Homo sapiens: one gene and its partner. The protein of the gene in region 2 binds, or shares a complex with, the protein of the main gene of each other region. Each region holds a gene or a part of one and is shown on either strand. Other genes may lie near its edges. The genes, in order: NEDD4L and YWHAH. A codon is read from its position in the direction of its gene.

The links.
Region 1: the proteins of YWHAH (region 2) and NEDD4L are in contact, whole or in part, in a crystal structure (PDB 7NMZ), measured with the Homo sapiens proteins. Residues at the interface, in NP_003396.1 of Homo sapiens: Arg12 (codon at 1,693), Glu15 (codon at 1,684), Asn39, Asn43, Leu44, Ser46, Val47, Lys50, Arg57, Lys125, Arg132, Tyr133, Gly174, Leu177, Asn178, Val181, Tyr184, Glu185, Leu221, Leu225, Asp228, Asn229, Leu232, Trp233; in NP_001138439.1 of Homo sapiens: Pro444, Arg445, Ser446, Leu447, Ser448, Ser449, Pro450, Thr451, Val452, Thr453, Leu454, Ser455.

What each region holds. Positions count from the first base shown.
Region 1 is NC_000018.10:58,042,414-58,046,313, reverse strand, and holds the start of NEDD4L (E3 ubiquitin-protein ligase NEDD4-like), read right to left. Parts: upstream 2,089-3,900; 5' UTR 1,654-2,088; coding exon 1,606-1,653; intron 658-1,605; exon of another isoform or gene 526-657; intron 381-525; exon of another isoform or gene 296-380; intron 1-295. UniProt on the Homo sapiens protein: E3 ubiquitin-protein ligase that mediates the polyubiquitination of lysine and cysteine residues on target proteins and is thereby implicated in the regulation of various signaling pathways including autophagy, innate immunity or DNA repair.
Region 2 is NC_000022.11:31,942,560-31,946,459, reverse strand, and holds the start of YWHAH (14-3-3 protein eta), read right to left. Parts: upstream 1,926-3,900; 5' UTR 1,727-1,925; coding exon 1,640-1,726; intron 1,627-1,639; exon of another isoform or gene 1,094-1,626; intron 961-1,093; exon of another isoform or gene 782-960; intron 1-781. UniProt on the Homo sapiens protein: Adapter protein implicated in the regulation of a large spectrum of both general and specialized signaling pathways. Binds to a large number of partners, usually by recognition of a phosphoserine or phosphothreonine motif.

The DNA of each region.
Region 1 (3,900 bases), on a different chromosome or scaffold from region 2:
GAAGTAGAGGATGCAAGGGAAAGCTCCTCAAAGAGAGAAGCCAGGAGGGAGAGGAGAAGCCCCCCGGGTCAATGAAACAATGCTACTGTCACCTATCCCCAGGTAGTTACACAAAACGGGAAATTATTTTACAAAAGCACAGCGAGGCAAAATAAACACACAAATCACACATTATTTGCACTGTGATCATTCTTTGATCAAATAAATACATCAAGCTTTGCCTAGCACCGCTAAGAAAAAAATTCATACCCTAAACACCCTTCCCACCCCAAAATACCTTTCATTCCACACTTACGTAGCACACAGGCACACACACACACCATGCCAGGGTAGGAGAGCCGCAGAAAGCGGAGCCATAACGCGAGCCTGTCTCAGATAATAGCCTTTCTTCCAACCCCACCCCCAACACGAGAGAAAGAGGGAACCTCTGAAAAGAAAGGAGGGAGGGGAAGAAAGAGAAATCGAGAACGCCTGAATTTCCAGGCATCAACTTTTCATGAAATGCACAACCAGGATAGGAAATACCTCCCTGCTGAGTAATGCTTCTTGGGTTGTAAAATTCACCTCTCGAAAGGGGAGCCAGACCTGAGCGCGCACCCCGCCAGATGGCAAACCACTCCTACCTGCTCCATCCAGCCTGCCTGTCACGCCGCGCCCGCGACAAGCGTCCCACCCCCCTTTTTGGCAGAGCAACATACCAATAAGAGCCGAGCGTGGCTGGTCGAGAGAGGACTAGGCAGTGATTTAGCAGGATTGTTTCAAAAGGGGGGAGTGGGAGACACGGAAGAGAGAATGAAGGTAAAAACAAAGCCCTTTCCAGTGAAACCGACCGCCTGGGAGGCGTGGCTTATTCAGTCGCTTTATTAATAAAAGAGATCAATTAAGCTTTCCTCTCCCCACCCACCCTGGAGGTGCCGGGCTTTGAATCCTCGGGAGGAAAAAATGGCAGGGCTGCAAGCTTCCTCCCCAAGTTTCCAGGAGCACCTGCCACCAGCCTTGAACACCTCCCCCACCGAGGCTCCGAAATCCACAATCCTGGCCGTAGACTTTGCAAAACGAGGGGAGGGACACACGCAGCGTGTCCCCCATTCCCGCCGGGATAAGCACGCACAGGCTTCTGAGCGCCTGCTGATCCACACAATCATGAGAGAGAAAGTTCCAGGGGGAAACGATCCGGCTTCTCCGCAGTCCCGGGTCTCCAGCCGCGCGACCCAGACGTGACATGCATCATGGACTCCCGGGCTGCAGGGGCGAGAGGCGGAAAGTTGCCCAACAGCCCCGGGAGACGCTGCTTGGAGAGGAAGAGGGAAGAGAGGCACGCATGCCCCCTCCCTCTCCTCCCGAAAGCGAGGAGCTGCGGAGTGAACCCCCAGCTCCAAGGGCGTCGCGCCGCTTTATTTACAAACAATGAGCTCGGCTTGCGGAGGGTGGGGGGTGCGGAAGGACCCAAGCTCCCCTGGATCCCGCTCCGGGGCGCTCCCGCTTTGGGGCTCCCCTGCAGACGCTGGGCACGAGCACCCCGGGGACGGCCCCTTTCCCCTCCCCCTGCCGGCGCGGGATAGGAACTCCCCGGGGAGTCCCGAGCAGGAAGGGGGTGCCACTCACCTCGTCTTCGGAAAGTCCATAGACCGGCTCCCCGAGCCCGGTCGCCATGGAGCCGGCGCCCCGCGCGGGGTCTGAGGCGCTCCCAGCGGCTGTGCTGCGGCGCGGACGGCCGGTTCTCCCCTCTGCCTCCAGGTCCCCCCGGTCCCGCACCCTACCCTGCGCACGCCCTGCCGGGTAAGCGGCCGGGCGCCGGCAGGTGAGGGTGCCCGAGAGCGCGCCCTGGACGCTGCCGGCACCGCTTCCTCCCGGAAGGCTGCGGGACCAGCGGGCGGGCGGCTCCCGAGAGCGCGCCGAGCACCGGGCGGCAGCCCCGGCGCCTCTCACTGCGCGCGGCGGCGGCGCAGACCCGGCCGGGCTTTCCCTCCCCGCGACCCGCGCCTCCCTCCCGCCCCGCCGCTCTCCGCCCCCCTCCGAGCCTCCTCTGCGCTCCCGGGGACCCGGCTCGCCCGCCTCCTCGCTAGCGCCGTCCGGGCCCCCGCTCTCTCCGCCCCCTCCTCCGCCTCCTCCCACCGGCGCCGCGAGGGTACCCTCCCCGTTCGCCGGGGCGGGCACACGCGCCCCCCAAGCCAATCACAGGCCGGGCTGGCGAGCGGGCCGCGGGCTGCGGGGGTGGCGGAGTTCAGCCCCACGCCCACCCCGGCCCGGGGCCTCCAGCGCGGCGCGGCGGGGGTCACCCGGCCGCGGGGCGGATCCGCAGGGGCGTGTACTGGCGCGCTTGGCCGGCGCCGCCGACCCTCCCTCCTCTCCCGGTTTCCCTCCGCTTTAGGGAGGGGGCGGGCTGGACGTTTGGGGGCGATAGAGGATTTTGCGAACAATAACAAAAACGCCCTGAGCGTTTCTTCCTCCCGGTGGTCTTTTTACCGAGAGCCCTGAGCTCGCTGTTAACTGTGAAAAGGGGAAAAGATGGATGTTTCTAGACCCCTTTAAATTCTTTGCGGCCCCGACGAGCAGGACTTGGCTACATTGTCAGCTCCCGGGAGCGAGCCGCCCGGCCCGGCTGCCAGCCGAGGAGAGGCTGCCCCAGTGTGGCCGCAAGTCGCCATTGCCTGTGTCAACCTTGCAGGGAACAAAACCAACATAGCGCCCGCCCCGGTTACACACCCACCCACGCGAAAACAGACAGCATGGTTCTTTGAATAAAAAGCAGTTCATTTGTGAGCCGCAACGTGAAATATCAAACTCAAGCTTAAGGTTATCCTTTGCATATGCAAATGATCGAGACGTCTTATTAGCCACCGTAGGATTCTTCCCACCACCCAGCTACCGTTTCTCTAGCAAGCAGTTCATTTAATCCTTCCGATTTATAGGACTGCAAGAGACTACTTTAAATAAGTGAAAGAAATTCGTCAGTCGACTTTTTCGGAAGCCTTTCCTTAAATTTAGATGTTAAGTGCAGTTGGGAGTTCAAAAAGAAAACAGACGCAGAACATTCCATTTGCCTTTGAAAAGGAAACGTCAAAGTGCCTACTTGGGTATTACCAGGATGCATTTAGGATTTTCATTCAAGGAAGTTCAGAGAGAACTCGCGTGACCCGAAGGAATCATATTCCTCGTTGCCAGCTACATAACTAAATATCTGCTGTTCGCCCTGCTAGTTCGTTTTCAAAAGAGCCCACCCATGCTACCTTAAGCTCTCCTTTGCCTTCCTGCAGCATGACTGGCTTAAAACCTGTGCCGTAGAATGGGTTTCCTTTGACGACTTAGCCCCATGGAGTCAACATCCTACTCAGAAGCCTTCTCTAGAAGTCTTGAGCCGTCAAGTCCACAGTACTTACAGGCCACAAAACCCCCAATGAGAACTATTTATGGAGGACTATTTAAAAGTCAGATTTCTGTCCATTCTTTCAATACTGAGGTTTTTCAACCCTTTCAAACCTCGAGTCTTTAGACCGGGCACGGTGGCTCAAACCTGTAATCCCAGCACTTTGGGAGGCTGAGGCGGGCGGATCATAAGATCGGTAGTTCAAGACCAGCTGGCCAATGTGGTGAAACTCCATCTCTACTAAAAATACAAAAATTACCCAGGCGTGGTGGCGGGCGCCTGTAATCCCAGCTACTCGGGGAGGCTGAGGCATGAGGATCCCTTGAACCTGGGAGGCGGAGGTTGCAGTGAGCCGAGACTGCGCCACTGCACTCCAGCCTGGACCACAGAGCGAGACTCCGTCTCAAAAAAAACAAAAACAAAAAAAAACAACCCTAAAGTCTTTTGATAAACAAAAGGTACACGTGCACACTCTGTCTTTCTCTCTCTCTCTCTCACACACACACACACACACACACACGCATTCTCAGATG
Region 2 (3,900 bases):
CAGCACCACTCAGTTACTGGGGAGGAGGGGCTTAAGTGTGACCTGCTGTGGACAGAGGCAGCTTTATCCCACAGAAAATTAAGGTTCAGGGTCCCTTCCAAGGAAATGCATTCGTCAGTCCCATTTTTGTAAAATATGCAAAACTATATTTTAGATTTTCTTTTAAAGGACCCCCTGAATTACATAAAGTTCAGCCTCCAGACCTAGACCGTCCCCCGGTCTGGAAGAAAACCTGCCTCACCACAACAGCATGCTAATAGTGCTCAAGTCAAGATCACCAACAAATCAACATACGGGCAACGGTGTTGCTGGTTTCCAAACACACCCAGTTATGTGTGTAACAAGGACACCAGAGGAAAGGCAACTCTTCAAGCACCTTTCTTACCTGAACAATCCTAAATATTGGCCCCAACTACATATTTCATCTGATATTAACATCAAAAGCCTTCAAATGAGCTTTCCAAATGACTTAAGATTTTAGGGAGCCTTTGTATTGGCAGTTTTTTTTCGGAACTCCCTCCAAAAGGCCAGCAAAGGATACATTTACTATAATCATGGGCAGTAATTCTCAGACTTAAGCCAGCTAAAAATCGCCTGTGAGAGCTGGTTACAATGCAGATGTCTGAGTCTCACCGCCCGAATTTCTGAATGTATAGGTCTAAGGCGGAGTTCAAGGGGATCCTCCCAGGTCTCAGGAGGTTGTACACTGAACATAGGTTGGTGGTCGCAGTTGTTCTACCACTGTGTGACCTTGACGCAGGGAGAGGAAATATTCATTTACAGAAAACGTAAAATAACGTGGAGAGAGAGTGAGATGGTAACCGGAACTCAGAAATGCAGGTGGTGTGTGACCCACGGTATTTTGCTAGGGTGTGGCTGGGCACGACTCATCCACCGGAGAAGCTGCAGAATCGATTTATGAGGGTCTCAGGAATGCAAAGACACACAGATTCGTCTCACCTAGAAGTCACGTTTCATTTTAATCTCCAAGCAGACAGCGCAGCAGCAAACCTGGGGCTGTGGAGTGGGGCCCCACACCCTCCGCCCACTCTCCCGCCCCCGTCCACGCCTAGACTGCAGGAAAGGGGTCTTCGCACACAAAGCCAGACCCCCAGGCGTGGGAAGATGGAACCAGAACAATTCGAACGAGCAGAGCAAAACAGATCGGAATTGCAGACTTCAGGTCGTGGCAGAGAAAACCAGCTGAGACAGGGCGCCACTTACTAGGTGATTCTTTATTCCAAGTTGGGGAACGGAGGAAGACGAGAGGGGGAGCCCCCGGGTCCGGTGAAACGCTCTAGGAGAAATGCGGCTCCTTCGCGTCCCCTAGGGCACCCTCTGCCCCCGGCCGGGTTCCGAACTAAGATGTGGCGACCCCGACCGGCCCGCCCCCCTTCCGGGGCTGCCTTCGCGATCCCGAACTGCACCCTCCCGGATCCCCCACCCTGGGCCCAGCCTCAGGAAGTGGCGGGGCGCCCAGCGGGAGCGGGAAGCGCGGGCTAAGGGCGGGCGGGCGGCCACGCCCAGCCGGGTCGCCGGGTCGCCCATGGCCGGGAGGGGAACGCGCCCGCGGCCATCCCCGTCCCTCCCCAACGCCAGGCCCCCCCCGGCCAGCCGCCCGGGCTCCCGGCGCGCTCACCGCCTTCATAGCGGAGGCCATGTCGTCGTAGCGCTCCGCCTGCTCGGCCAGCCGCGCCCGCTGCAGCAGCTGCTCCCGGTCCCCCATGTCGCTCGCGGCTCGGCCTCGCCTCGCGCCTCACACCGCTGGCTCGCTAGCCCTCCCGCCGGTCAGTCCGCTCCCCGGTCGCTGCGGAGGCCGCCGCCGCGCACGCGCACTGGCTCGCCGGCCGGCCGGAGGCTGCAGGCTGCAGGCTGCAGGCAGCGCCGCCGCTCGCGCCCTCTCGCTGGCTCGCCCCGCGCGCTGTGGCTCGCGCCGCGGACAACGCCGAGGGAGGAGACGCGGCCGCGCTGGGGGATGGGAGGACGGGACGACGCCTGCGCAGTGAGAGTGGCCAGGCCGGGCGGCGGGGAGCGGCGGGAGTGGGAGGGGGGAAGGGCGGGCCGGCCCTAACGGTCTATTTCAAGGTGACGTCACCTACTATAAATAGCCACCGCCGCCGCCGCCGCCCGGCCTGAAAGCCGCGCAGGCGCTCTGCGAGTGCTGCATTTTACCGCCGCAGAGATGGAGGTGGAGAAGGGAAAGCCGGGCAGGAGACTGCGGAGCCGGTGGAGGGGGCGCGGTGATGGCGGCTGCACAGGCAGTGCATTGTCATAGCCCCACCCTGAAACGCGCCACTCCATCCACGTTAGAGATCTGGCTTGAGAAGGGCCCCAAAAGCAAGCAAACATACTGGCGGAGAAGCCGGGAGACCGCGTGCCCCGAGGGGCGGGTCCGCCCAGCCCCGCCCCAGCCGTCCCGCCCGCCCCGAGCCCTGCCTGTCCATGCGTTCTGCTGGGCCACACCTTGTACTGGTCCGGGCAGGATCGAGTCCGACCCTCGGGGACAGCCCCGCTACACAGACACACACAATCGAACCCAACCTGAGACGTAGCCTTGGGCAGGCTGTGCCTTCCACCAGAGGAGGGGACTGGGTGGCCAGGGCGGGACAAGTAATATTCAGGACACATTAGGAGCCAGCCCAGTGCTAGTCCCGTACAAGCATCCTCCTCTTTAATCCTCACTACCCAGCCCACAGTGGGCACAGCTGGTCTCCCCATATTTAAAACGTGGAACCTGAGGAAAAGCGAGGTTAGTGACTTGCTCAGGGTTACGCAGCCTGTAAGTGGTGGGGCCAGGATCTGAGTCCAAACCCAGGCTGAACTTTCTCTTGTGGCAAAGAGCTGGGGTGGCCCAACTGGCTGGTCACTGAGCCCCTCCCAATCCTGGCTGGTATTGGATGCTGAGGGTCCCTTGTGCCAGGCCCTGGACTGGGCTGCCCGACAAGCTAGGAAAATGATGATTAAAACAAGGCCCCCACTTGATTTCAACACGCCAAGGGCAGTGCAGGAGAGGGGGCCTTGGGCTCGCTGAGAATTTTATTGAGCATCTACTGCATGCTCAGCCCACAGGGATAAGCTGGATCTTGAAGGAGAGTCAGGAAAAAGATTAAGGCCTGGGGTACAGCATTGGCAAAGGCTTGGCAGTGACCTGGGAGATGGTGAGAAGAGAGGCCTAAGAATGGGAAGTGAGGTTGGGTAAAACAAGATTACGGAGTCTTTTAAATGCCAGGCCAAAGATTTGAGGCTTCATCCTTAGGTAATTGGGAAGCCATATTTCAGGCCTGGAATCTTGCTCTAGAGAGTAAGACATGTTCGAAGGGAGAAGGGAGGGAACTGGAGACCAGGCCTTTTCTGGACCTGTTTTCCATCTGGAGAATTGGACTTAACTGTTTCAAGGACTTTAGAATAGATATCCACATGCTGAAATGTCAGAGCTGGCAGGACCCTTAGAATCACCCCTGTCTAACCCCTTATCCTGAATAACGGGAAACTGAGGTCTGAGGGAAAGGAGGGGCTGGCCCTAGTTTGCACAGCGAGTGAGCAGAGCTGGGGTCTCCATACCAGGTTTCCTGCCTCCCAGGCCTTCCTCTTCCTGCTATGATGCTGAAACGATCACACTTCTGGGGGCCCATGAAACAGGATTTGAATGTGGGTCTAGGAGGAGGCCACTACCCCAGGCTTCACCATGCTTTGAAGAGTCACTTTTGCTGTTGGAATCGAGGTTAACAAACCAGGCTAATCTTTCCCCTAGTGAATATATTTAAAGAGCATGCTAGATAGTAATGAATCATCCACTCCACCCCCCATAAGGATGGGGTCCCAGTGAGAGATGGGAGGAGGGCCAGCCCTGGATGGGGGGACCTCCTCGGTTCCTTCTAGCTCTTAGAGGGCTTAGAGCCC